Linked DNA regions of Homo sapiens: regions 1 and 2 are each linked to region 3. Evidence: fine-mapped expression QTL. A gene starts in region 3. Each other region holds a variant in brackets. All regions are shown on one strand. Distances are between the middles of the regions.

What was found. PIP is the estimated chance that this variant, and not a neighbour inherited with it, causes the effect. A credible set is the group of variants that fine-mapping cannot tell apart.
Region 1: its variant is the best candidate, but not a certain one, in a credible set for the expression of TSPAN17 in CD4 T cells (BLUEPRINT, PIP 0.79).
Region 2: its variant is the best candidate, but not a certain one, in a credible set for the expression of TSPAN17 in whole blood (INTERVAL, PIP 0.73).

What each region holds. Positions count from the first base shown.
Region 1 is chr5:176,677,413-176,687,301 of GRCh38, reverse strand. No RefSeq gene overlaps it. Among named protein-coding and RNA genes, the nearest start is that of TSPAN17, 35 kb to the right of the region's middle. RefSeq lists enhancers at 5,509-6,468, 6,469-7,429. The variant C/A (reference allele first, on the strand shown) is at 7,092.
Region 2 is chr5:176,666,298-176,674,520 of GRCh38, reverse strand. It overlaps LOC124901144 (a long non-coding RNA gene), which reads right to left. Exons shown (of 2, transcript XR_007059072.1): 2 at 6,994-7,844. Among named protein-coding and RNA genes, the nearest start is that of TSPAN17, 23 kb to the right of the region's middle. RefSeq lists enhancers at 1,792-2,355, 2,356-2,921 and a silencer at 7,911-8,137. The variant C/T (reference allele first, on the strand shown) is at 2,532.
Region 3 is chr5:176,645,113-176,653,130 of GRCh38, reverse strand. It overlaps TSPAN17 (tetraspanin 17), which reads right to left and starts at 5,647. Exons shown (of 9, transcript NM_130465.5): 1 at 5,429-5,647; 2 at 1,465-1,515; 3 at 1,231-1,377; 4 at 218-388. The coding sequence starts at 5,515. It overlaps EIF4E1B (eukaryotic translation initiation factor 4E family member 1B), which reads right to left. Exons shown (of 9, transcript NM_001099408.2): 7 at 7,888-8,001; 8 at 7,615-7,754; 9 at 6,487-7,265. The coding sequence ends at 7,151. RefSeq lists enhancers at 1,602-3,400, 3,518-4,387, 6,749-7,043, 7,314-7,824 and a silencer at 5,416-6,075.

The DNA.
Region 1 (9,889 bases), 33 kb before region 3:
ACACCCCAAAGATTCCGTGACATTGCTGTTAAGTTTTGACAGTTCTTTATATGCTCTGAATACAAATCTCTTGTTGGATATGTGGTTTGTAAATATTTTCTCCAAGTCCATAGCTTGTCTTTTTATTCTCTTAACAGTCTCTTTCTCAAAGCAAAAGTTTTAATTTTGATGAAACTCGATTTATCCTTTTATAGACTGTTTTTAATAGCATGCCTACAAACTCTTTGTCTAATCACAGGTCATAAAGATGACCTTCTATGTTTCCATTCAAAAGTTTTATCTATAATCTATTTAGAGTCCATTTTTGAGGTCTGGCATGGTGGCTCACACCTGTAATCCTAGCACTTTGGGAGGCCAAGGCAGGAGGATCACTTAAGCCAGGGAGTCTGAGACCAACCAGCATGGGCAACATGGTGAGACCCCTTCTCTACAAATAAAAAATTAGCCAGGCATGGCTGGGCGTGGTGGCTCACACCTGTAATCTCAGCACTTTGGGAGGCCGAGGCGGGTGGATCATGAGGTCAAGAGATCGAGATCATCCTGGCTAACACAGTGAAACCCTGTCTCTACTAAAAACACACAAAAAAAATTTGCTGGGCATGGTGGCAGGCGCCTGTAGTCCCAGCTACTCAGGAGGCTGAGGCAGGAGAATGGCGTGAACCCGGGAGGTGGAACTTGCAATGAGCCGAGATCGCGCCACTGCACTCCAACCTGGGTGACAGAGCAAAACTCCATCTCAAAAAAAAAAAAAAAAAAAAATAGCCAGGCATGGTGGAGCACACCTATGGTCCCAGCTACTCAGGAGGCTGAGGTAGGAGCATCATCTGAGCCCAGGAGGTCAAGGCTGCAGTGAGCTGTGATTGACCACTGCACTCCAGCCTAGGAGACAGGATGAGACCCTTCCTCAAAAAAGAAAAAATAGAGTTAATTTTTGTGTAAAATGTAAGGCTTAAGTTATTTGTTTTCCTATGAATGTATTTGATTTTAATTTATTTATTTAACTTTTTACTATATCTCTTTGAATAGTTTTTTTAGAGGTTGTTCTAGAAAATGCAATAGACATACTTAACTCTTCTCAGTCTACTTCATGTGAAGTGTAAAGAACTTACTGCTGTGTAGGTCCCTTTATCCTCTCCCTTTTATGTTATATTTGTCTTCTATATTACATCTACAGCCACTGAAAACCCTACCACACAATGTTTTTTTGTTTGTTTGTTTTAACCGTCAGACATATTTTAAAGAGCTCAACAAGAGAAAAAATAGCCTATTATATTTATCCAAATATTTACCATTTCCTCTGCTCTCCATTTATTCCTGATGTTACACATTTCCTTCTACTATGATCTCTTTCTGTCTAAAGAATTTGTTGTAGCAGTCTTTTAGTGCAAGTCTCCCAGTAACAAATCCTCCTAGCATTCCTTCATCTGAAAATGTCTTTATTTTACCTTCATCCAGAAGGTATTTCTTCTAAAGACTTATGATTTGACAGTTCTTTTCTTATTTTGTTTTGTTTTGTTTAAGCACCTTAAAACTGTCGTTCCACTTTTGCTGGCCTTCATGGTTTCTGATGAGAAATCCAGAGTCATTTGAATCATTTTTCCCCTATAGGAAATGTGTCATTTTTTTGGGCTTGCTTTCAAGATTTTGTCTTCATTTTTCATTGTCAGAAGTTTGATTATGATTTTCTGGTCACAGATTTCTTTGGGTTTCTTCTGTTTAGGATTCACTGAGCTTATTACATCTGTAGGTTTATGTTTTTCACCAAAGTTGGAAAATTTTCACCATGATTTCTTTACATATTTTTTCCAGACCCTATTTATTTCTTCTCTCCTTCCAGAATTCAAATGATAAGAATGTTAGAACTTTTGGTGTTTCCTCATGGGTCCCTGAAGTTCTGCTCATTTTTTAAACACTCTTTTTTGCCTGTCATTCAAATTGGATGACTTCTATTGATCTATCTTCAAGTTCACTGGATTCTTCCTCTATCATCTCCATTTTGCTATTGAGCCCATCCAGGGAGATTCTTGTTATTGTCTTTTGCAGTTCTAAATTTCCACTTGGTTCTTCTTGGTATCTTGTTTCTTGGCTGAGACTTTCCATTCATTTCAAGAGTGTTTGCTCTTACACATTGCACCACTTTCATAATAGATGCTGTAAAGTCTGATATCTCAGCAAAGTAGCCTCAGCATTGGCATCTTTTCCTGAGTGAGTTGAGCCTTTCCTGGTTCTTTTTTTTTTCTTTTTGAGATGGAGACTTGCTCTGTCACCCAGGTTGGAGTGCAGTGGCACAATCTCAGCTCACTGCAACCTCCACATCCCTAGTTCAAGCGATTCTCCGTCTCAGCCTCCTGAATAGCTGGAATTGCCTGAGTCACTGGAATTATAGGCACACGCCACCACACCCAGCTGATTTTTGTATTTTTAGTAGAGATGGGGTTTCACCATGTTGGCCAGGCTTGTCTCAAACCCCTGACCTCAGGTGATCCACCCACCTTGGCCTCCCAAAGTGCTGAGATTACAGGTATGAGCCACTGTGCCCAGCCACTCCTGGTTCTTTCTATATAGAGAAATTTTTGGTATTTTTCTGTTAGCAGGCAAATGATCCAGGTGAGTTCAGGTCATAAGTTCCCAACAGCCTCCTGTGGCCTGTGGTTCCAATGTCAGTTCAATTTACAAAGTTTTGCTATTTATTCATTTTTTTATTACTTATTTTATTTTTTTGCTATTTCACTATTTGAATCTGCCCCGTATGTACCACCCCATGGCTAATCTGGGATTTGAGCAGTGCACTATCCCGTAGTTCAGTTCTCAAGTATGCAGTTTAAGGTCTAATCCTGTACAGATCATGCACATTTTGGGAAGGAGCCCAGGATTTCACAAACAACTTTAAGGGATCACTTTTTCCAGCTCTTCTCTCTCTGAGATCTCTCCTATACTTTCTGGTTCACTGAGGTTCCCCTTGTCCAGTGCTTGGGCCAGAAATCTGGGGCTTTATTTCTCCTCTGCCATGCATTTCCTGTGACTGTATGAGTTGAGCCCAAGCACCAGAGATAGCAAAGCAGCAGGGGTTTGCCCCACCTTCATGGACCACGGCTCCTCCAACTGGAGAGGAAAATTCCCCTTCCTTAGAGTTTTAGGTTCCCGCCAGCTTTCGCTGCTGCTGTTGCTACTGTTGCTAGTGCTACTGCCACATCATTGCTTAGGGGCTGTGGCAGGAGAGAATAGAAAAAGAGAAAAAGAAAAAAAAATAGGAGGCTTCTTCACTCACCGGGAGCAGTGGAAGACCCCTTTCTTGGTCCCGAAGCCAGAATCAGAGGGTTTTCCCTGGAGATCTCTCTATAGATGCTGATATCCACTTCAAGGTTTTTGGCTGCATTGAATTCAGGGGTTTCAATTCAGGGGATATTGGATGGGGGAAAAATAGTAAACTTACCACCAATTTGGTGTTACTTTGATAACTGGTCTTTTTTTCAGAGACTTAAAGGAGGTAATTCATGCAATTAGTCCAGGTTTGAAGCTGCATTTTGTGGGAGAGACAAGGTGGAGTGTGTCTACTTCATCTTACCTCCAACTAGAACCTCCCCACTAATTTTTAACAGACCCAGTGCATGCATACATGGTGCTAAAGCCATCACCGAGTAAGCGCCTCTTATGTCAGGCACACCAACAGAGTTTTATGCTCACAGACTTATGCTCAGGCAGCTCAGGGTTTGAGCCCCTGGCCCTCCATCCAGCTGTGTGATGCCAGGCAAGAATCCAAATGTATATGATCCTCAGTTTTCTTGCCTGTAAAACAGGGACAATTGTATGAGGTAGCAAGGTTGAGACACCGTAACATCTATAAAGCTCTTTATCTCAAGACCTAGCACATAATAAATGCTCAAGAAATAATAGCTACTTTTGGTATATTATTATTATTACTCATTTTGTTGCAAGCAGAGTCCTGGGGTTGCAAGCTACAGAGAGACTCTGCCCATATTAAGCAAAAAGGGAAGGTAAATTTGGGGTTATCTGAATCCACGGAGGCTGGGGGACCAAATCTGAGAGCACCAAGGACTGAAGACTGGTTGAGGGTCTCAGCTGAGTTTACTTCTGGCCCCACAGCCTGGGACAAGCTGCCCTAGAGCTTCCACTGTGAGAGGTAGCACCATCACTGCTCTCCTCAAAGACCACACTTGGTGGGGAACTTTCCAGAGGGAAACGGGGACTAACAAGCAAGGGGGGCACAGGTTCTAGAAAACCCCCCACAATAAAAAACCCTTCCCTCTTATTAGTTATAAGACCAAAGGCAATTAACCTAACCTCTCTGCATGTCTGTTTTCTCACCTGTAAAGTAAGGCAAATAATATGAACTGAAGACTTAATCTGATAATGTCAGAAAGGAATGATGACTCAGGATCAGGCAACGAGCAAGTGCTCGATTATAAAGTATGATGATGATGATTACATATGGCTGCACATTCAATCCTCACAACCACCCCTGGGTGTTATTGACCTCGCTCTCTGGATGGAGAAACTCACAGGGAGGCAGTGATCTGGCCAAGGACATGCTATGGCCTTGGATCTAAACACAGGTGGGACTGCCTTTTAAAACTGGTTTTATTCCCTAAAAACCTTACCTGTCCTCATCGTGGGGGATGATCAGAGTGCCATCAATGTTGGGCAGGCACCCAGTGTGTGTGGCTGACGGGATGGATGGTAACCACGCAGGGCAACATTTGAGGAAGAGGGTCGTATAAGGAGGTGGAGGTGGTGGGAGCTCCTCCACCTGAGATCTGCATTATGTTGGAAGCAAAGTGCTGCATGCAGAGGGGTTTCACCCGGGTGTGCAAAGCCCTCAGCACACCTGCGTTCTGCTATGTATTTTACTCATGAAAAATGTCAGTTATTTGGATGAGGCTGTCAGGATGAGAAATTTGATGACTGACCCACTTGACGACTTAAGATAGGATCCCCACAGAGTCTATGGGTCATGAGATTTGGCGGGAAGGCCTCTGAGCTGACCAGTCTCATCTAAGACCAGTTGATTGGTCCCATCTGGAGGGCATAGCTGGGGTAGGGTGGGGGTCAGAGCTGGGCTACAGCAGGACAAGAAGGCTGGGGCAGGGGAGACAGAGGGTCCCTGCGGATCTACTGTAGGGCAGGAGGTGATGGTGCTGTAGATGGCACTCAGTTTCTTTCCACTTTTTTTCTTTTTCTTTTTCTTTTTCTTTTTCTTTTTCCACTTAAGAAAAAGCTGTAATGAGACAGCCTATGGAACAGCAAGATTGATTGTGTCGTTCTGGCCTTTGAGGGAAGAAGGGGGAAAAAATCAAATTATCGGACAGGGTCCTTTTAAGAAGCTGCGGCTTTAATTTATTTTCTTATATTTTGTCAATAGCTGTTGTTTTTTTCTTAAACAAGTGCTGCACTTTATAAATGGATTTGCTTGGGCAAAACAAACACAGTCATTTCATACTTTTCCTTCCCTCTAAAACTTACTTAAAATACGGTGAGTGGCTAAGATGGACCCCCAGGGCCTGACCACCACTCAGAAAGGTGACCCGTGGCTTTAGAAAGACACCCGGCCCTGGGAGGCGGGACAGGAAGAGGGATGGATGCAGCAGCAGACCCGTGGCAGATAATCACTTCCCCGCCATGCAGCTTTTGGGGGCTCCAAAATCTCCTGGGAGAACTTTTTTGGTTTTTTTTGAGACGGAGTTTGTCTCTGTCGCCAGGCTGGAGTGCAGTGGCACGACCTCGGCTCACTGCAAGCTCCGCCTCCCGGGTTCAAGCGATTCTCCTGCCTCAGCCTCCCTAGCAGCTGGGATTACAGGCGCGCGCCACCCTGTCCGGCTAATTTTTGTATTTTTAGTAGAGACTGGGTTTCACCATGTTGGCCAGGCTGGTCTCCATCTCCTGACCTCGTGATCCGCCCGCCTCCGCCTCCCAAAGTGCTGGGATTACAGGCGTGAGCCACCGCGCCCAACCGGCAACATTTTTAAAGCACAGATTGCCCCACCCACCGGTGAAGAGTCTGATTTCCTGGGCCTGGAGGGTGGCCCCAGACTTGGGGTGTTTAAAGCTCAGGTGACTGGATAGTAAAGCAGCCAGGAAGCTCAAATTCCAGCCCCTCAGCCTGGCCTTCCTGCCACCCCTGGGCAGCCACGCTGCCCTGGTCCCCACTCCACCCCAAGTGCCCTGGACTCCTTCAGGGGCCCCCAGCTTCTGCACCTCTGCTTCCTTGGCCTGCAATGTGGACTCACCTTTTCAAGTGGTTGAGTCTCATCCACTTGATTATAATTCTGGGTAGTCATCACCATCCATTCATTCATTCATCACCATCATCATTCATTCAGCTGTTCATTGAAAATTTATTTATTCAACACTTTTATATGCCAGCCTTTATGTACCAGAGTAATATACAAAGATAAAAACAAAAAGAGAGAGTCCTTGGCCTCCAGAAGCCCGTGGAACAGCTGGGCCACAGTCTCCCTTGGCCTCTGCTGTGCCCCACGCAGAGCAGGGGTCTCAAGCCCCAATGTCCCCTGGGGTCTGGCGAGGCGCTGGGTGACTGAAGAGGGCAGCCGGGCCTTCTAAACGGGGCTGCCCCCCAGGTTTGCCTTGTGGAAGGCCACCCGGTGTCGACTGCCCGTTTTTCAGGAGAAGCCAGCAGTCCAAGTATTTCCATGAACCCTGGCTTTTTAATGTGACTGGTTTTCTTTAAATCCACCCTCCCTGGGGGCCACACGGAGCTTTTCTGCCTGGACCCTCTGCTGCCGGGTCCCCAGTCTCCAATCCTCGCGGATCCCAAAGGCGGAGCTCAGGCCCCGTGGCGCAGGAGCCATCCGGGTGGGCGAGGCCCTGACCGGATGCCTTCCCCCGGGACCCGGCTCGCTCCCCTCGCCCTGCAGCTCGGCTGAGACGCCTCCCTGAGACACCGCCCCGCGCCCGGGAGCCGGCCCAGGCGGGTGGGTGCCTTTCTCCGACAGCGGCGGCTCCCGGGAGGCGCACTCCACGCCGCTGGTTCTGCGGCCTCCAGTAATAAATTGCAGCGGAGGCGAGAGTTGAGCTGCAGGGCGGGAGGTGCGGGTTGAGGCTGGAGGCTGCGA[C/A]TCGAACCCCGACAGGGGACAGCGAAGTGAAGCGGGGCGGATGGACGGACAGGCTGCGGGGTACGGGGTGCGGGGCGGGCAGGGAGCTGGACCCCAGTCCCATCCTCTGAGCTGCGGGGAGGCGCTAAGGCCGGAGCAGAGCGGCACTGCAGCCTGCAGGGGTCTAAACAGGGATCCCCTAGGTCCTCCACGGATTAAACAAGATGAAGCCTGAGCCTGGCCTCTCTCTTCCTCTGCACACCCAGTCACGTCCCCAGACCCTTAGCAGGACGAGCCTTGCTCACTCACGCTTGGCGTCCGAGATGCCTCGGATATGTCCTCCTCCCGGTGTTGACAGCCTCCTGCCTGGTAGCTGGCAGAGCCCCAGGGTGACAGGGAGAGGAGCTAGCCTGGCCCTGTAAGGAGTCTGGGGATCCCAGGCAGGGGGATGTTCGGAGGGGAGCAGTGGGGCCCACGGAGACACCCACTCATCAGGTCACCAGCCACCAAGACAGCCCCTCCTAACTCCTGTGGGAGGGGCCTGGACAGAATGGATGGGGGTAACTTAGAGTCCCCATGTGCCCCCACTGAGGCAGAATGTATGTCTTGAAGCAGAGGGGTCACCAGATTGGTCCTGGGACGTGACGGGGGACCCTGGTGGTCTAAGAGGGGCATGCGGCAGGGATGGATCCTGTACCAGGCAGGACGGAGGACTATGTGGAGCCAGTGTGGAAGGCAGAGACCCCTGGGTTGTGGGTGCAGCGTTGAGGTCACACAGATGTCTGGGGAGTTTGGCCCCACTCGAGGCCTTGACCCTTCCTGGGTCCCTCCTCCACCTGAGTGCAACCACAAATGGACCAAGAACACCCCAAAATGGGCCAAATTTATCCTGAATTTACTCTAATGGGGACTCAAGACAGAAATTAAGTTTTGTTTTAGAAAACCTTAGCAGGGATTTTGCACCCCCAAGATGGGTTTGTGACCTTGGAGACTCTGCCCCACACCAGGCACAGAGTTCTCAGTAGCATTCGGTGTCCAGGCAGGGACTGCTGAGCCTCTGCTCTGTGCTGGGCCCTGGCTTGGGAAGGAGCGCAACAAGGTCCCTGCTCTTGGCGGCTGATATCAGAGGAGGAGATGGTCAGTTAAAGTAGCTCAGGAGCTCATCTCGGATGGTGGTGAGTGCTGGGAAGAAACGCAGACATAGGGAAGGCCCTGGGACAGGACTGGGGACTGCTTTAAAGGGAGCCAAGTTGGCCTCTCTGAGTAGGGCCACTGGGCTGAGCCTCAGATGAGAGGAGCTGAAGGTGAAGGTCAGAGGAGAAGGCACCCCAGGGAAGTGAGCAGCAGGTGCAAAGGGCCTGGCAGGGGCCTGGGCCCAGCTTGGGGAGATCAGCAAGGAGGGGCCCACGGGCGCTCACTGCTCAGCTCAGCCATCTTGGCAGACAGCCAGCTTCCCTCGGCCAACAGTTCCAACAAGGGTGCAAGAATATAGCCCCATTGGCCAGGCCTGAAGCCAGAGGCCAGGGTCAGCACTGCCTAAACTACTGGGAGATGAAGGTTTCCCAAGTGAGAACCAGGAAGGAGAAAGATGTGGGCCAGGCAGACATGTGGAGCCCACCTTGTTTGGGGTGAGGACCGGAGGCTCCGATTGCTTAGGGAATATGCCCAGGAACCGGAAGTGGATTCTGGCTCTTAAGTCTGCTGACCACCGCCCAGTGCCTCCTCTGAGCCTTCCTCTGTCCCAGCCTCCTCCAGGCCTCTCCCTCTCCTCTGGCCACCAGGTCACCCAGGCACCCGGGACTGCCTCTTTCCTTCCTAGTCATCACTACCTGCCCTCCCAGCTCTTGCCTGCTCCTGGCAACATCCTCACCAAAGGGGGACTTGGGGAGCAGGAAGATAGATGGCTGTGTTCACCACTCACCCAGCCCTCTCTGTTCCCCTGACACCTACCCCCAGGAGGGAGAGCGAGGAGGAAATGCTCAGGTACACACCAGTGCCCATCACATGACCAGGGACGGGGAGGAAGAGCCACCCCACCAAAGGCTGCATTCACTGTCCCTCATTCAGCCCTGGATTGTGGGTGTGAATGTTCAGGCCACTCACGCAGGTGTGCCAAAACCACCACCTTACTTTCCTACTATATGCATGCTTCCTTTCCAACCTCCGTTTTCTACTGAGTAGCAGAAAAGTCTTGAGTTCAGTTCAGCTCTGTCAGCTTCAACTCAGAAGATTCAGGGCCCCCTCCCCCATCTCTTGGACCCCACAGATCCCAGCAAATATGGGTGACATCATAAACATCAGGGGAGGTGGCAGATGGGTCATCGGTCGATGTCATCCCTGCTGGCACCCCCAAGACATACACTGGGACATGTGGTTCTTGGCTGTCATCTCTGTTCCGAGTTGGCAGCCGATGAGCTGTCTGCGTCCCCATCTGGTCTCTGCTTGTAAGGGCCAAGCAAGTTTTGGCTGTGGCCTCCTCTTGTCACAACTGGGACTCCCTTCCAGGCCCTCCTTGAGAACTTGGCCGCTCCCTACAGGGCACTGGGGCTGGGGAGCTCGCTGGGCTGTCACAGGCCCTCTGTTGAGCCACCACCGCTCACTCCCTGTCTAGAGTCTCCTGGCCTTCTCAGGGCACAGGGCACCTGGGGACCTTGCCCCTCCCAGGAAATGAGGTTCAGCCCCACCAATCCCGAGATCAGAGCTGCAGCTGCCCCTGGGGGCTTATCCTTCCCCAGGCGTACCCCCACCCAGCCCAGGAGAGCCCTCTCCCTTAGTTCCTTATATTCTTCTGTCCTCCACAGCTAGACAATGTTTAACCT
Region 2 (8,223 bases), 21 kb before region 3:
TTGCAGCTGGACTCTTAAGAGGGTTCCGGAACCTAAGAGTCTCCCAGGATAGAGAGCCCAGTTCCCACCAGGCCACCCGCCTCCTTCCCCCACCTGCTCCCATCACATCTCTGAGGGCTGGGACCAAGTGCCATCCCATGGTGGGGGATGGGGGGCCTGAGCAGGGAGCCTCAGCCCCATACCTGGTAGGCCTTGAGTTGTCTCCCATGCTCGGAGGGAACCCCCTCCCTGTCTCTGTGCTGCTGTCAGGGAGCCAGGGCCCCTGGAGGACTCTCTATGCCCATGCTCTGCACACCCCTGCCCTGTGCTGGCACCACCCAGAGACCTGAGTTTTGCCTTTACCCTGCCCCCTTGGCTGTGCTGGCGGGCTACCCTGCCAGCCACACCAAGTGCTGCTGGTTCTCACCCAGCCCGAGCCTGCAGCCAGCCTTCACATCCCGGGTCTTGCCCGTTTGCCCTTTGCGTGCCTCCCAGGAACCTCACCCACCCCCACCCAGTGGGGTTGCACCTGGAGCTCCAGGGGTCCCCTGGAGCTCTGTGGGTCCCGCCTTCCCACTTCTGCTCTGACACCCTGTCCAGCCAGGGCTTTGCTGTTCCCCTCTCTGCCACCAACTTGCTGCCCAAGACGACCTCATGGGGAACCTTCGTGCAAGAACAGCTGCGCGCTTCCCCTCGCGGTGGCCAGCTGGCTGCAGCCCCACCACAGACACTTTGGACAGCAATGGGACAGTGTCTCCTCCAGCTGAAAATGCACCCCTCCCCACCGGAGAGTTCACTGCTCACCTGCCCTCAAGAAAGCCTTGCCCAGACCCCTCGAAGCATTCTTTGTCATTGTGAAAAGCTGGAAGCCACCCAAGGGTTCATCGGGGGGCACCGGGGGCTACAGCACAGGACAATCACAGACAGGAGCACCCCGGACAGCTCCAGGAGTGACCCAGACCCACACAAGGCTCAAAAATATGTCCAGTGAGAAAAACCAAGGAGCTGAATGAGACAGCGTGACACCTTTTAAGAAAGGGGTAAAGGGCCAGGTGTGGTGGCTCATGCTTGTAATCCCAGCACTTTGGGAAGATGGCTTGAACGCAGGAATTCAAGACCAGCCTGGGTTGTGAATACAGGGAGACCCCGCCTCTACTAAAAATGAAATTAGCCGGTGTGGTGGTGCACACCTGTAGTCCCAGCTACTCTGGAGGCTGAAGCAGGAGGATCACTTCAGCCCAGGAGGTCAAGGCTGCAGTGAACTGAGAGCACACCACTGCACTCCAGCCTGGGCCACAGAGTGAGACCTTGTCCCAAAAAACAAAAAAAAAAAAAAAAAAAAAAAAAGGGAGGGGGATGGTGGGGTGGGAATTCACAAAAGAGTATTACCTCTTTTAAGGCATCTTTATATATTTGTAAAATCAAGAGGAAAAAATCTTAACAGTTGTTACTTCTGGGAAGGGTAGAGGGCGCTGGGATTGGGGCTGATGGTCACAGGGTCTTTACCTGTGATGTTCTAGTGTTTTCAAAAGGAGAATGGATCCTTGTATGACACGTGTAATTTATCATAACCCAAGAAAGACAAAGAATTCCAACAGCTGGACCACATGCCCCTTGTGCCAGCCTCATTGCTGTTTCCCTCAAGGACCCTCCTGGCTCCCTGAAGCCCCCCCGCCCCATGCCCCGCCACACCCCCTGTCTCGCCCCCCACCCCTCACGCCTCCCTCAGTCCTCTGCCTCTCAATGGACCTAGAGCTGGAGGCTGTTAGATCTTCCATTTAAAACTCCTCTCTGTGCCCGCATTGGGGAGTTTCTTATTCCCTTTCAGATGTAACTGTCTGTCACCAATAATAGTCTTTTTCGATTTCATTTCCTTCAGCTCCTGCCAGCCACTCTGAGAGCCTCCTTCCCATCCCTGCTGCCCCCCCCAGCCCCAAGTCAAGGGAAAAAAATACATTTTTGCCTTTACTATGATGTATGCGATCCCATAAAATAGTGAAACAGATATGAAAGGTTGAGAGAAGGTAGATAAATGGCTCCTATTATTCTACCAATCAAATGAAATACCTCTCCACGTCCTCATTTGAATGATAATAAAACTCGGAGAGGCTGCTGGTTCGCTGTTGTCATTGCTGCCAGCAGCCTTGAGCCGCGGAGCCACAGGCCAAGGTAACCTTGGGGTGTCCTCTGCAGGACCTGCAGGGGCCTGCATACCCCCTACCCCATCTCCTCGCCTCCCCACTGCCTGCCCCGCACAACAGCTCTTCCCCAACCCCACCCTCCCCTTCCTGCCGCACCCCCAGGTCACCTCTGTTTGCCCAGGCCCCTGCTCCCTCCAAGGTCCACAGGGTAGAGCCAGGGCCCAAGAATCAAAACCCAGGGTCTCTCACGCAAGGAATGCCCTCCTTTCTGCCACAGCCTTGGCCCTACACTGCTCAGCCTTCCTGGCCTCCTTTGAAAGCCCCTGCCTGCCGTCCAGGTGGGTCGCCTCTTCGGGCATTCCCCAGCCCTTGCCACACACCTCAGTGACTGGACGGTAGCCTTGTGTGTGC[C/T]AGGTCTCTGCAGCTCTCTTCTAAATTCCTAGCAGGTGGGGCCAGGTGGGACTGCCAAGGCCCATGTGCTGGGCTTCTTTCGTCCCACGTAAACTTCACAAGTGTCCCCCGTGTGGAGACGCTGGATCAGAGAACAGGTGGGAAGTCCTTCCCTGGGCTGGCCACTGGGTAGGTGCCGGCCACTTCTGAGGCTCACAGTGCCGAAGCCTTCTGCTGTTTCTGCCCCTTGGAGTTCACAGTTCTGTTTCCCATGCATTTGAGTGCTTCCGGCAAGCCTCACCTGACACCACTCTCCCACTCCACCCAACCAGGGGACACTTAGGACTTTTTCCTTCCCTGCATTTCCCCCACATTTCGGGGAGCCCACTGCAGGCCAGCTTGGCAGCCTGCCAGTCATGAGACCCACCCTCCACCCTGGTGGGTACTCACCCCTCTGTGCAATTTTGAATCTCAGCAGGATTTCTTATCTGAGTGGCCACACCCTAAAGAGACTTTCCTTCAGTTCTCACCACCCAGCTCCCCAGCGTGGCCCTGACTTCTGCCCTTTCCTTCCAATTAATTCCCCCTTGCATTAAGGCAGTCAAAGTCAGGCCGGGCACTGTGGCTCACACCTGTAATCCCAACACTTTGGGAGGCTGAGGCAGGTGGATTATTTGAGGTTAGGAGTTCAAGACCAACCTGGTCAACATGGTGAAACTCCATCTCTACTAAAAATACAAAAAAAAAAAAAAAAAAAAAAAATTAACCAGGTGTGGTGGCAGGTGCCTGTAATCCCAGCTGCTTGGGAGGCTGAAGCAGGAGAATCACCTGAACCTGGGAGGCAGTTGCAGTAAGCCAAGATTGCACCAGTGCACTGCAGCTTGGGCAACAGAGAGAGACTCTGTCAAAAAAAAAAAAAAAAATAGTAGTCAAAGTCAGTTTTTGGTACCAGGACTGGCCAAAACATGGACAATGCCCCAAGTTGGTCCCCAGAGCATTGGGACTTCCTCTGTCATCTCCAAGATCTGCAACAGTGCATCTGCCTCTCCTCCATCAGGGCAGGGGCCTGTCTGGGCCCCTCTCCTCCCCTGATTTCCAGCCTCAGGGACAGTGCCGGGACCCACAGGAGATGGGGTCAATGACAATGAATGAAACTGTGGAAATGGTACCCATTTTAGAGATGAGGAAGATGAGCCCCAGAGGACAAGCAACAACTCAGCACCCAGATCTTCGTCCTCGTTCCCCGGACCTGGGGCTCTTCCCTCTGCATCAGTTGCTGTCAAGTACCAGGCTGTCCCCAGTCCAGGGCTTCCTTGAGCCAACAGATGGGCAGGAGGTGGAGTCCAGGGGAAGAGCCTGCTAAGAGACAAGCTGGTGCTGAGGCCTCAGGGGCTCGAGGGAGGGGAGCATCCACTGTGGCATGCAGGGATCGCTGAGCGCAAGCAACGGAAAGCTTCTGCGAGGCTTTGGGAGGTTGTCAGGCAGCTCACTGGATGGCTGGGACACAGAAACCTGGAAAGGGTGCAGAGCAAAGGCTGCCTAGAGCCTGCTCTGGCCATTTCTCAGTCCCTGTGTCAGTTCTCTGCACAGGGATCAAAGCCCCACCATAGAGAAGGGCCAGACAAGCCAAGCCCTCAGCATGTGGAGCTCCTCCAGAGAGTGTAAGGCCTTGGTGGCAGCTCATCCCCTGCAAATGCTAGAGGAGGATGAGCCCCCAAAGCAAAAGCCGGTGGCGTCACCTCCAGCAGGGGAATGTATTCAGGGCAGCTGAAGCCCTAGAAGCCAGCCAGCCAGCCCACCCAGCCTGTCAGTCTTGGCTGTAGCCCTGCTCAGCCTGTGAAGGGCTGCAGTGGGGCTGGGGTGCAGCCCGCTGCTGTGGCTCAGGCCCCATAATCACAGGCTTGGAGCTCAGGGATCTCAGAGGGGACTGAATCTGCACTTTGCAGCTGAGGACCTCTAGGCCCCTGGAGAGGCAATGACAGAGCCAAGGCCCTCCCACCCACCATGGGGCCACTCTGAATAGGGACCCCCAGGCCTCCCCCAGGGAAGAGATTGTGCGCCAGTGCCAGTTGCTGTGAGCCATGTGATATTCAGCAGGCCACCATAGCTCTGCTCCGAGCCCAGCTCCTTATGCATAAAATGAGGCTGCTTTGCAGGGCTACTGCAAGCATTAAGCAAGTAATAAATGTATGTGCTCCTAAGCTGACACTTAGAATGGAAATGAAAACATATGTCCACACATGGATTTGTACACGAAAGTTCACAGCAGCTTTGTTCATGATCACCAAAAACTGGAAAGAACCCAAATGCTCCATCAACTGCTGAGTGAATGGAGAAGCTGGCGTAGCCCCACAATGGAATACTCCTCAGCAACAAAAAGAACAACAGGGATGAATCTCAGCAGCGTCATGCTAAGTGACAGAAACCGGACTCAAAAGGTGGCATCTGTATGACTGCATATATGACCGGCTCTCATGCCTGGCAGTAATGTTCTGTGACATTCCCGGGAACACTGAATTCACTGGTATGGAAGCATTGCTCCCAGGGAAATGCAGAGTTAGGTTCCTGAGATCCTCTGCTCACAAGATTTTGGTCACCTGACCAATGCATACATCTGTGGCATGTGTTCTTATGTTTAAAGACACCTTATTTAATATAGAGGCTGTTGATCTGTGAGCATGAACTCATGGCCACAGAACTATAACTCATGACTGAGCAAAGCTCATCCAACACATGCATTTTCTCTGTAAGACACATCGCAGCCTTCTAGCATCAAGGAGCACCAGCCAGGGCCTCACTCTGATGCTTGAGGGCCATTTTCAACAGCGAAATCCCCAACAAAAAGTACAAAAATGCGGGAAAGGTGGCCCTGAGTAGACGGGGGAAAGTCGCTCGTTGAGTTTGACCTCCGCAGGAAATGTGTGCATCCACAAACGAAACTTCTCAGTGCTCTGCTGATGTCCAGGAATGATCACAAAAGTGCCACGAGGATTGATCTGGGGGTTACAAATAAATTTTTGCAAGTCATCAACTTCACAAATATGGAATCCGTGAATACTGAGGATTGACTATATGCAAAACTTTAGAGAAAAAAATAGAAATCTAACCCGCAGTGACAGAAAGCAGCTCAATGTTTGTTTGGCAGCAGGGTAGGAGCAGAGATTGACATAGAAGGACCACAGGGCACCTTCTGGGTGATGGAAATGTTCTCTATCTTGGTGGTTACACAGGGGAATAAATTTGTAAAACCCACTGAAATATGCACCTAAAGTGTGGAGACTTCGATGTATGTAAATTAGACTCAATAAATTGACTTTACAAAAACTCCTTAGCATGATGCCTGATCATTCCTCCACTCCTCTAGGGATCTCGGGATCAGCTCCCTTGGGAGGGGCGCTATGGGACAGAGGAAGAAGCTTGGGCTCCATCTGGAAGTGGTTTGCATCTCGCCCCCACCCCCGAGACAGGGCATGTCTGACCCAGGCCTTCAGCTTCTCCCTTCTTTCCCACTATGTCCATCAGGACTTTCAGTTGAAGATGACAGAAACCCAGCTCGGACCCCCTTAGACAAAACAATGGCTCTGCCATAAGATATGGCTACACCTACAGCTCAAGTGCCATCACCAAGCCAAGGTTGCCCACCTTCTCTGGACTCTATGTTTCTCTGTCAGCCTCACTCTGGGACCACAGGCAGGAAGGTGGTCACCAACAGCTTTTAGAACTCCAAGGGAGGGAGCGGAGCCTCTCTGTCCCAGTGAGGACCCAGGAGCAGGCATCCTTTGTGCCTCTCCACAGCCAAGGCCATGGAATGTGCTGATGTCAGGCCTGGGTCCTATGCCACTCCCTTTGGAGAACAGAAATCAAGGAGGGAGGGATTCTCCCCAAAGGAAAATCTAGGTGCCGCCACCAGAAGCTGGGGGAGAGATGGGGACCAGGCAGATGCAGTAGGTACCCGACACACAGCTTGCCCTGAGCCGGGGCTACCTTTCCTGAGTGTGTCATAGACACATCAAGAACCCAAACCTGGCAGGGAATAAACGAGAAGTGGGAATTAAACTCAATATTCTAGAACCCCATGGAAAACAGCAACATATTCTGACGTTCAGTATCCCAGGGCAAAGAGTGAAAAGACTTCCTCTTCTCCCTGCAGCTCCCCCTGGCTGGAAGACACCGCCTGGCTTGTTCCCCCAGCCCCGTGCTCCCACTTCAGAATCCAGGGGCCATTGAGTCCTCTGCCACAGAGACCCCACCGACCCAAACATCATGCCCCTGATTTTGGATCAACACCAATTATTTTGAAAACAATTTTCCTGGCATCCCAAGGGCTCTCTCATGCTTCTCTGGTCTTATCGTGCTTCTATCTTTTTGGCAGGTCCATGACCAATGGAACTTCTTGACGACCACTGAATATTTCAGACTTTAGCTACTAAAGGATCCATTCTGCTCTGTTACCTTCAAGAACCTTCTTTAAGGATACAATGAATTTTCCTCCAATTTAATAAAATTTATTAGGTATCTGCTTAATTGGAAACAAGAGGACAGAGATGGTTCCTGCCCTTGTCTCCTCCCTGCTAATTTTTATCCTTCTTATTTATTTTCTTGTGTTACTGCATTGGCTAGGACTCTATGACGGTGCTGAATTGTAGCACTGAGTCAGCATCCTTGTCTTGTTCCTGCTGCTGATGTTTCAACATGAAGTATAAAGTTTCTTCCATATGTCTGATATGTGCCCTTTATCAGGTGAAAGAAATTTCCTTTTATTTCTAGTTGCTAAGAAATTGTGATTTTTCTTTTTTTTTAGACAGAGTTTTGCTCTAGTCTCCCAGGCTGGAGTGCAATAGTGCGATCTCGGCTCACTGCAACCTCCGCCTCCCAGGTTCAAGCGATTCTCCTGCCTCAGCCTCCTGAGTAGCTGGGAATTACAGGCATGCGCAATCATGCCCAGCTAATTTTTTTTTTTAAATAGAGGCGGGGTTTCATCATGTTGGACAGGCTGGTCTTGAACTCCTGACCTCAGGTGATCTACCTGCCTCAGCCTTCCAAAGTGCTGGGATTACAGGCGTGAGCCACCACGCCTGGCGATTTTTTTTAAATTATAAATTCCTGCTGTAATTTATCAAATGTTTTTTCAAGATCATATTTTACTAGTATCTGTAATCCAAACAGTATTCTATTTCTTTCCTCTGACAAAGGGACGAGTCTGCTGTGGTCCTTTCATGTGAGACCCTCCCCTGGTTTGCCAGCGCCTGTCCCGTGAGAGTCCAGGGCACGCCTCAGCCCACAGGATCTGTGGCAGCAACATCCAACTTGGGTATTTGATAGCGAGGTCAGCACCTATGACAAAAATCAAAAGAACAGTCAAGATCACCCTTGAAAATTGCTTAAATTGCCCATAAAAAAATACGTGGGTTTTAGGTCTCAGGCCCTGAAAGAATTCTAGAGCGTCCCTGCCTGCTGGGCTGGCTGCCTCCTGCTTCAGTACTGAGCTTTATTGTATAACTTTAAGCTCAGGCCGGGCGCCGTGGCTCACGCCTGTAATCCCAGCACTTTGGAAGGCCAAGGTGGGAGGATCGCTGGAGTCCAGCAGTTCGAAATAAGCCTGGGCAACATAGTGAGACCCCATCTCTACTAAAAAAAAAAAAAAATGAGTCAGGCATGGTGGCACCTGCCTGTGGTCCCAGCTACTCGAGAGCCTGAGGTGGGAGGATCACTT
Region 3 (8,018 bases):
TTCCCAAGGCCGTGGCCCTATGGCACTAGGCAAATGGGGACCCATAAGGATCAGCAGGGGCTGGCTCTCCTCGGACGAGGACACTCCTGGGTCTCTCTCCTGGGGCCCGCTAGCCCAGGTGGGTAAGGAGATGGTCCCATCACAGGGAACTTGCTCCCTCATTCGTCTGCCAGGAAGGCGCCTCCTACAGGTGTCCCAGGCTGGACACTGGACTCACGTATTCCTGAGCAAAGTCAATGAGGTTCTGGAGGTCAATGTCGTCCCGGTAGGCCTTGACGTTGTTGTTGATGAAGAGGTTGAGCTGGTCTCGAATCCAGTCCTTGAAGACAAAGGCCAGGATCCCTGTTGCCAGCTCCAGGAAGAAGATGAGACCGAGGAACACGGAGAACTGGGGTTGGGCATACAGACAGTAGGGGTTGGAAACGCAGGGCTCTGGTGACCTCCCAGGGCTTGGGTGTGCCACAGGGAAGGGCTCCATCCCTACCTCCACCAAGACCCAGAGGCGCCCAGAGCCCCCACCTTCTATTATTTTAGTATTGTTATATGATGGTAATAGGCATCTGTTGTTACCTACCCATCCAATTCCCTTTGTCTGGTAATCACACCCTGCTGTCTCTGAAAAACCATCCTCCATGCAAACCTTTAGTTTCCAAGGTTCGGATGGAGACACCTCCCCAAACCCACCAGTCCCAGATACAGGACTGGCAAGTGCCTAAAGCCCACCAATCAGAGCACTGCCTCCCTCGGCCTCCAGGGATTGGTCCAGAGGCAGCCAATCAGAGCCAAGGAAACGCAATTAAAGCACTTTGGGAAAACGGTTGGGAAGAGAGCTCTCAGCCTCCAGCAGGAGTTCCTGGGAGGGCATGGGGAAGCCGGCTCTGTTCCTGAGCCTCCTGCCACCTGGGAATGGAGCCAAACGGGGGGAGCCCGAGAAACAGGGAGAAACCAGGCCAAGTGAAACTGTGGCAGCCCCTGGATCAAAATGCACCGGCAGCCAGCACAACCCTGGACTTTTCTTATTTGAGTCAATAAATATTTTATGCTTGGGCCACCAGGTCTCGGTCACTTACCATACCACGGAAAGGATCCTAGTAAATATAGACAACATGAATCTAACGATGACGATTATAGCATAATAATAAAGCTACCCATCATTAAGCTCCAACTGTATTGCAAGAACTGGATGGGAGGAGATGGGGGTTCCCAGGGGATCTTGAGGGCAGCACTCACAAACTTGAGCAGGAAGGTGTTCTCCCGGAGGGCCCCAATGCAGCCAGCAAAGCCCAGCACCGACATGACGCCTCCAACTACCACAAACAGCCACACGGGGTCAAGGCCTCCCAGATCTGTCAGCGCTGAGATGTTCGAGAGAACGCCCTGTGCCGGGCAGCAGAGGCAGGTGTGGGGAGCTGACCTTCCCACCACCTCGTCCCATACCAGCTCCACGCCCGCCCGCTGCCTTACCTTCTCACCCCAGGCCCAGAGGCCGATAGCCAGGAACAGGGCTCCCAGCACCTGCAAGGGCAGCAACAAAGAGCTCAGGGCTGGGAGCAGCCCCAGGACCCTCCCCCCTCATCCTTCCCCGGTAGCCAGGGCCTTTCCAGCGGAGAGAGGAAGAGGCACAAGGGCTGTGAACGGGATCCGGGGTCCTTTCCATCTTCCCAAGAACACATCCCAGTGCTTCTTCCCCACAGGACACAGCCTGGAGGACTGAACCCTCTGCTAGCCTTGGGATGGACATCAGGGGCCCCTTCCTGGAACTCCAAATTGGAGCAGACGGTGGCCAAGACACTCCTGCCAAGGAGCAATAGCAGCTGTGTCAGCGGGGGTAGCGACGGCGCCAGTATACTGAGCCTCTACACCTGACCGAAGCTGGTGCTGGGGTTCCAGGCTCCTAGCCTCCTTTCTGCACCCTGCCAAGTCCAGCTCTCCTGCTACCCTAAAGCCGTGTGACTGCGGCCCCGCCCTCAACACTCCTCCCCAGCCCAGCCCCATCCTACCCCTTTAACCTCCGCCTGCCAGAGTCAGCTTCCACGGCTCACGACCAGACACCCCTGAATGACAGGAATCTCAATCATCCCTAGCAGGATCCACCTAGGATCTGGCCTGTGCCAGTGGCTTTGCCCCATGGCCACAGCTCTGCCTGGGCCTTCAGAACACCAGCTAGACTCCCCACCGGGGCAGTCCAAGTGCCTCTCCTCCATCCTCAGCTTTCCCACCTTCCTGCCTCAATTCCCTACTGGGAAGAGCCCTGGATGTCCAGGCTGGTCACTCTCACACCTGACCCTGGGCAGGTCCCTGGGCGTGCAGTCTCAGAGGGGGAAAGGCTGTCGTACCCAAGCCCAGGGCCATGACCCCACCTCCTGCGACCTCCCCACCCACCTGCTTTATCTGCAGGCTCCTTCCCCTCAGCACATAGCCACGGCCAAGGCCTTTATCACCTTCCCTTCCCTGACCGTGGGCTCCCCACACTGCTCTATTCTTTCTCTGGAAACATCTTCCCTTCCCTCCTGCCTGCTGGGTCTGCTGATGTGAAACCAAACATCACTTCTCCTGCCTCCTCCCACTTGGCCTGCCCTTGGCCTTCAGACAGGGGACTGAGTGCCACTTTCTCCTTCCTGAACCCCACCTCAGTTAACTCAACCCCATTCCTCCCCGAGCTCCTTCCCAGGATGCTCCGCCTTCACCTGCCCCGGGGATTGGTCCAGAGGCAGCCAATCAGAGCCAAGGAAATACAATTAAAGCACTTTGGGAAAACAGCTGGGAAGTGAGCTCTCAGCCTCCAGCAGGAGTTCCTGGAGGGCTGTGTTCCTGGAGGGACCACCTGTGGCTGGTCCCACGGCCTCCAGCCTCAGCCTTCTGCCGTTCTTCCTCCTCACGCTCGTCTTCCATCCCATCATGACGCTGGCATCTCCCGATCCCCACCCAGACCTCATGCTGGTCCCACACCCCTACGTCCACCCGCCTGCAGCAAACACCTCCACGACCCACCGGCACTGATCGCCGCCATGCCGGGGATTCGCTGGTGAATAGGACGGACTCGACCCTCACGGAGCTTACACTCCAGCAGGGGAGATGGACAGTCAGTGAGCAGACAAGGAAACCTCAGATGCAAACAGACCCCTTAACAAATATCGAGCGGGGCGACGAGATGGGGGATGCTGGGGTTGGACGCCAGCTTTAGAGAGGGCAGAAGGGAGGGTGGGGGCATTTCAGCTGAGGTTTGAATGATGAAAAGAGCAAGAGGGAAAAGCCTGTTCCAGGAGGAGGGTAGGGCACAGGCAGAGGCCCTGACACAAGACCACGTCTAGTTCAAGGAACAAACTGAAGGGCGGACAGCCCGGCCCCGCGGGGCCCTGGAGGCCGACAGTACTCTAGGAGCAGTAAGAAACCACGAGCAGGATGGCCGGGCGTGGTGGCTCACGCCTGTAATCCCAGCACTTTGGGAGGCCAAGGCAGGTGGATCACCTGAGGTCAGGAGTTCGAGACCAGCCTGACCAACATGAAGAAACCCCATCTCTAGTAAAAATACAAAATTAGCCAGGCGTGGTGGCACACACCTATAGTCCCAGCTACTTGGGAGGCTGAGGCAGGAGAATCGCTTGAACCTGGGAGACGGAGGTTGCAGTGAACCGAGATCGTGCCATTGCACTCCAGCCTGGGCAACAAGAGCAAAACTCTGTCTCAAAAAAAAAAAAGAAAAAAGAAAAAAGGAAACCACAAGCAGTTTCCAAACAGAACAACACCAGGGTCTGCCTGACATTAAACATGAAAACCTCTGTGCCTGTTCCACAAGCAGCCTCCCTTAGGCCACCTTAACCCAAATCTGAAATCCTCCCTCCAGCCCCCAAGTGACCCAGCCCAGTCAATTCAGCCTCTTGACTTTCCCAGCAACCTCCCTCACCTTTCCCACCTCACCATCCCAGCTTTGCCCCAGCCCTGCCCCCATTCCAAACCTCCAGGCCCTGCCCCTCATCCACCCTCCACACAGCAGCCAGGCAAGCGGTCTCCAGAACAGAAGCCAGATCAGACCCATCACTGGAAGCCCTCGCTTCTCCATGCCACCTTAACATAACACCCCACGCTCCGCCCCAGCAACAAACCCGGGTCTCTCACGCCTGCTCCCCCTCGGTATTTGAGGTTACTTCTGCTCACAGCTCTGCCTCACCTCCACCCTCTGCCCACTAAGCCGTCACCTTGGCTCTGTACTTTCTGGCTGTGTGACCCTAGGTAAGTGACTTAATTTCTCTGTGTCTATTCCTTCAGTTTCCCCATCTGTAAAATGCAGATAATAAGGCAGTTGTGAGAATACAACAAATTGAACTCATTGTATCTGCCTAACAGCCCTCACAGGCAGATTCTTTATCGTCGTCTCCCAGGCAGGCAAGCTGAGGCCCGGAGAGGAGAGATGACTTGCCCAAGGTGTCCCAGCCAGGCCTGCTACAGCCAGGCCTTCTGACTTCTTTGCCAGTGCTCCCACACACTGCCCACACCCTCAAGAGCCTAGCGCTGCAGTGCAAGGACACCCACCACACCAGTGAGCTCGGTGACACGTGGGTGGGGGGCAGTGCCACTGAGTCTTGCTGAACACAAGGGAAAAGGCCTGGCATCTTGACCCAAGGCCTCAGGAGCAGAGACTGCAGAGGGCCACGGCTTTGGAGAGATGGGAAAAATGACCTGGCAGGGCCCAGGGGGACAGATGCCACCCTGGGAGGGGCACTAGTAGCTCCCTTCCCCGGTAGGGGCAGACCCGCCCAGGAGCCTCAGCTTGTCAGCTGTGGAATGTTGAATTCTGTTCCCCAAGGCCAGCTCCCAGGCTCTCAACCGGGGAGATCCTCTCCCAGCCGCCAAGGACTCGCCATTGTCCCTCCCTGCCCCTCCTGGCAGGTCAGCCTCCTTGTGCGGGACTGGGGTGGGCAGAGGACTGTGACCCACCCCACTCTGCAGGAGCCTAAGGTGAGGCACCTGACCCAGGTACTACTGGAAGGGAAAGGAGGCCGGGGAAGGGGCCTGGCGGCTCCCTTCACGCCAGAATCTCCTTACCGGCTAAACCAGGGGTGGGGCTTGGCACGCATCCCACATCCCAGGGTAGGAAGGAGGGCTGGGCGAGAGGGGGCAACCTGCACCTAGCACGCCCCTGGGGTCTTCAAGGAAACACCTTCCCTTTCTCCACCAGGCCTCGGGATTATTTAGGGAGACTCCCTACCCCAACCCCGACCCCACGCTGTCGCTAGGACCCGCCCCCAGCAATCCGGGCCTCTGTAGCTACCTCGGGTGGTCCTGGAAGTGGGCGTGGGTGTGGCAGAAGTGGGGGGATGGTCCCGAGCTCCAAACTCTTGGGGCAGGGAGTGGTCTCCCCCAGCAAAAGACTGAATCTCCCTCTCCCACCACCCCCCAGCACAGGGCAAGGCGCAGACCCCGCGCTCACCCAGAAGACAATGTTGAAGCCAAACAGGAAGTATTTCCCGCAGCAGCCGACCTCAGGTTCCTGGAAATGCTGGTGCTTGCCGGGCATGGTGAGCGGCCACCCGCCGGCCCGGAAACCGGAGCCGGGAGCCAGGCCCAGCGCCCCGCGGGCCGCCCTGGGCTAGAGCCGCCCGGGGCCTAGCCGGGCGGCTGCGGCTTCATGGCCTCGGCCACACAGAGCGCCGGTCGGGCCCCGCCCGCCCCTCAGGGACCGCCCTCAGCATCCAGACCTCCTTGCCCGGAGCCCTGCTGTCCCCGCCTCTGGACCGGGCCCCGCCCCCACAGCCCTCAGTCCCTTTGGAGTCCCGCCTCCTGACCTGGCTCCGCCCCCATAGATCAACTCAGTCCCGCCTGAGCCCCGCCTCTGGACCTGGCTCCGCTTCCCGAGCTCCGCCCCCACAGCCTGATTCGGACCTCCTCGCAGCCCCGCCTTCGGCCAGGCCCCGCCCCCGCGCAGGCCGCCGCCGCGTTTCCCAGCGTCCTGCAGACCCGCCCGGGACGCCGGCTGATGGCGCCGGAGGCCGCCGGGGTGTAGAAGCCTTGCTTCCCCTGCTGGGTACCAGCGCCATCCCAATCCCCAGCCTGCTGTTGGAGCCCATCCCAGGGGAAGGTTAACTGCTGCTCTGGCAGGCGAATGGGGAAGCTGGTCCGGATTGAGTTTTTAACACGTGCAGGACGTTTTGTCATTGTGGAGTCGCATCAGGCTCACCTTCACCCAGCGGAAATCCAGCTCTACTTATCCTGACTCAAACTCAGGCCAAACGAGGGCCTGGGCCTTGGTGCCACGCCGGCTGCGCCCTGCCAGGGGCATATGCCCCCCGGAACCTGGCTCAAGCCCCCTTGGTGGCTGAGTTTCCCCAGCCACACCCCCTGTCCTCCATACTGGCCAGGGTCCCGGTCAGGCTCCTTGGTACCCAGTGATCTCACATGAGCCCCTGTAAGACAGGACAGAGGCAGATCAAAGTTTGGGGGAACCTGAATCTTACTCCAGTTTGAAGCCCTCTTAAAAATAATTCCAACTTTGTTCAGAAGTATTTATTTAAAACAGGAACAGAAAGATGCTTAAGCTTTTATTATCAAGTTTATCCACTTCCACCACTTCTACCAGAACCTTGGTGAGGCCTAGCCCAGCATCCCTCCACCTCCACTTCAGTCTGGCCCTGAGGCAGGCAAGGCCCAGACAGCCCTGGTCACAGCTGGGGAGAAGGGGAGCGGCCTTGCAAGGCTCTCTCAGTCCTCAGCAACCCACGTATCCCTCTGTACAAATGATGGCGTTCACCCTCCAGAATGTCTGTGCCCTTGAGCCCACCACCCATGGAAGAGTCTGTCTCTCAGGCCACCTCACCTCCTTCCTGGGTGGAAACAGTAAACGCTGGACTATGGGTTTCTCCGCCTACCATAGAGCCCTCCTTCCCCGCCATGACTCACCCCACCCTCAGGAGTTTTTTCCACCCTGCTGCTGTCCTGTGGCCCCAGGACAAGCTAGGTCCTCAGACTGCCACCACTACCCCCATCTAGCCCCTAAGGCTCAGGCCCCAACTCATGTTAAAGAGTGTTTGCATTCCTGTTCACTTGAGGACAGGTAAGAACTAGGCTGTCTGATCCCCAGTCCCGCCCCATCCCCCAAAGTAATGAGGCTCAGTGGCGGCTGTCCCATTACATAGGAGGGGTGCCAAGGCCCCCCTCACACCACAAACTTGTTCTTGGCTAGGGAGTTGCTCTTGGTGGCTGTGTCTGCATGGGCCTGGTACCCAATGATGGTCTTTGGGGAGAGGCCCAGGCGCTCTTTGTATACACGCCTGCAGGTGCGGGGGACACAGAGGAAAAGAGACACAGGTAGTCATCAGAGGGTCCTAGAGATAACTTAGGCCACCAGACTCCTACCCTCATTCTGGCCACAGCCACACCTGTTGTGTCTTACCCATGTGGAAACCCAAAATATGACCCCCTTAATGCAAAAGGAGAGCTGCACTGCCGTAAGAGAAAGTTAGAAATCTGAACGCCAGACCTTCCATACAGGTGGGCAAGGCAGAAGGGAGGGAGGCTATGGAGACTTTCAGAGGTCTCCCATGCAGGCCAAGCCCCCTCCACCCACCTTCCCTCTAGCAGAGACCCAAGTCCCCACCCTGTGCCAGAGACCCTCCTCACCCAACGTGCAGCACGCCCGCCTGGTTTTCCGCCTCCCTCGTCCACACAGCGATCTTGTCCCCCTTGGTGCGGATGTTGACGACGGCCCCACATACCTCTCTGCTGTGTTCCTCAAAGCTCTCCCCGATCAGACACAGCAGCTGGACCCGAAGTAGGGGGTTGTGAGATCACCGGCTGGGACATAGGGACTGGCCTGCCATCCTTGAGACCACTGCCACCATGAGACCCACACAGCCCGTCTCTTCCCCTGAGGACCCTCCTCCTCCAACTCACCGTCTCCAGCCACAGCCGGTCCAGCTCAATGTGGCGCTGCTGCTTGGCCAGGCTGACCAGCCAGCGGCCACCCCGTTTATTCCTGCTGTCCTCCCACATGGGCTGGATGCCATCCTGCAAGGCAGATGGCA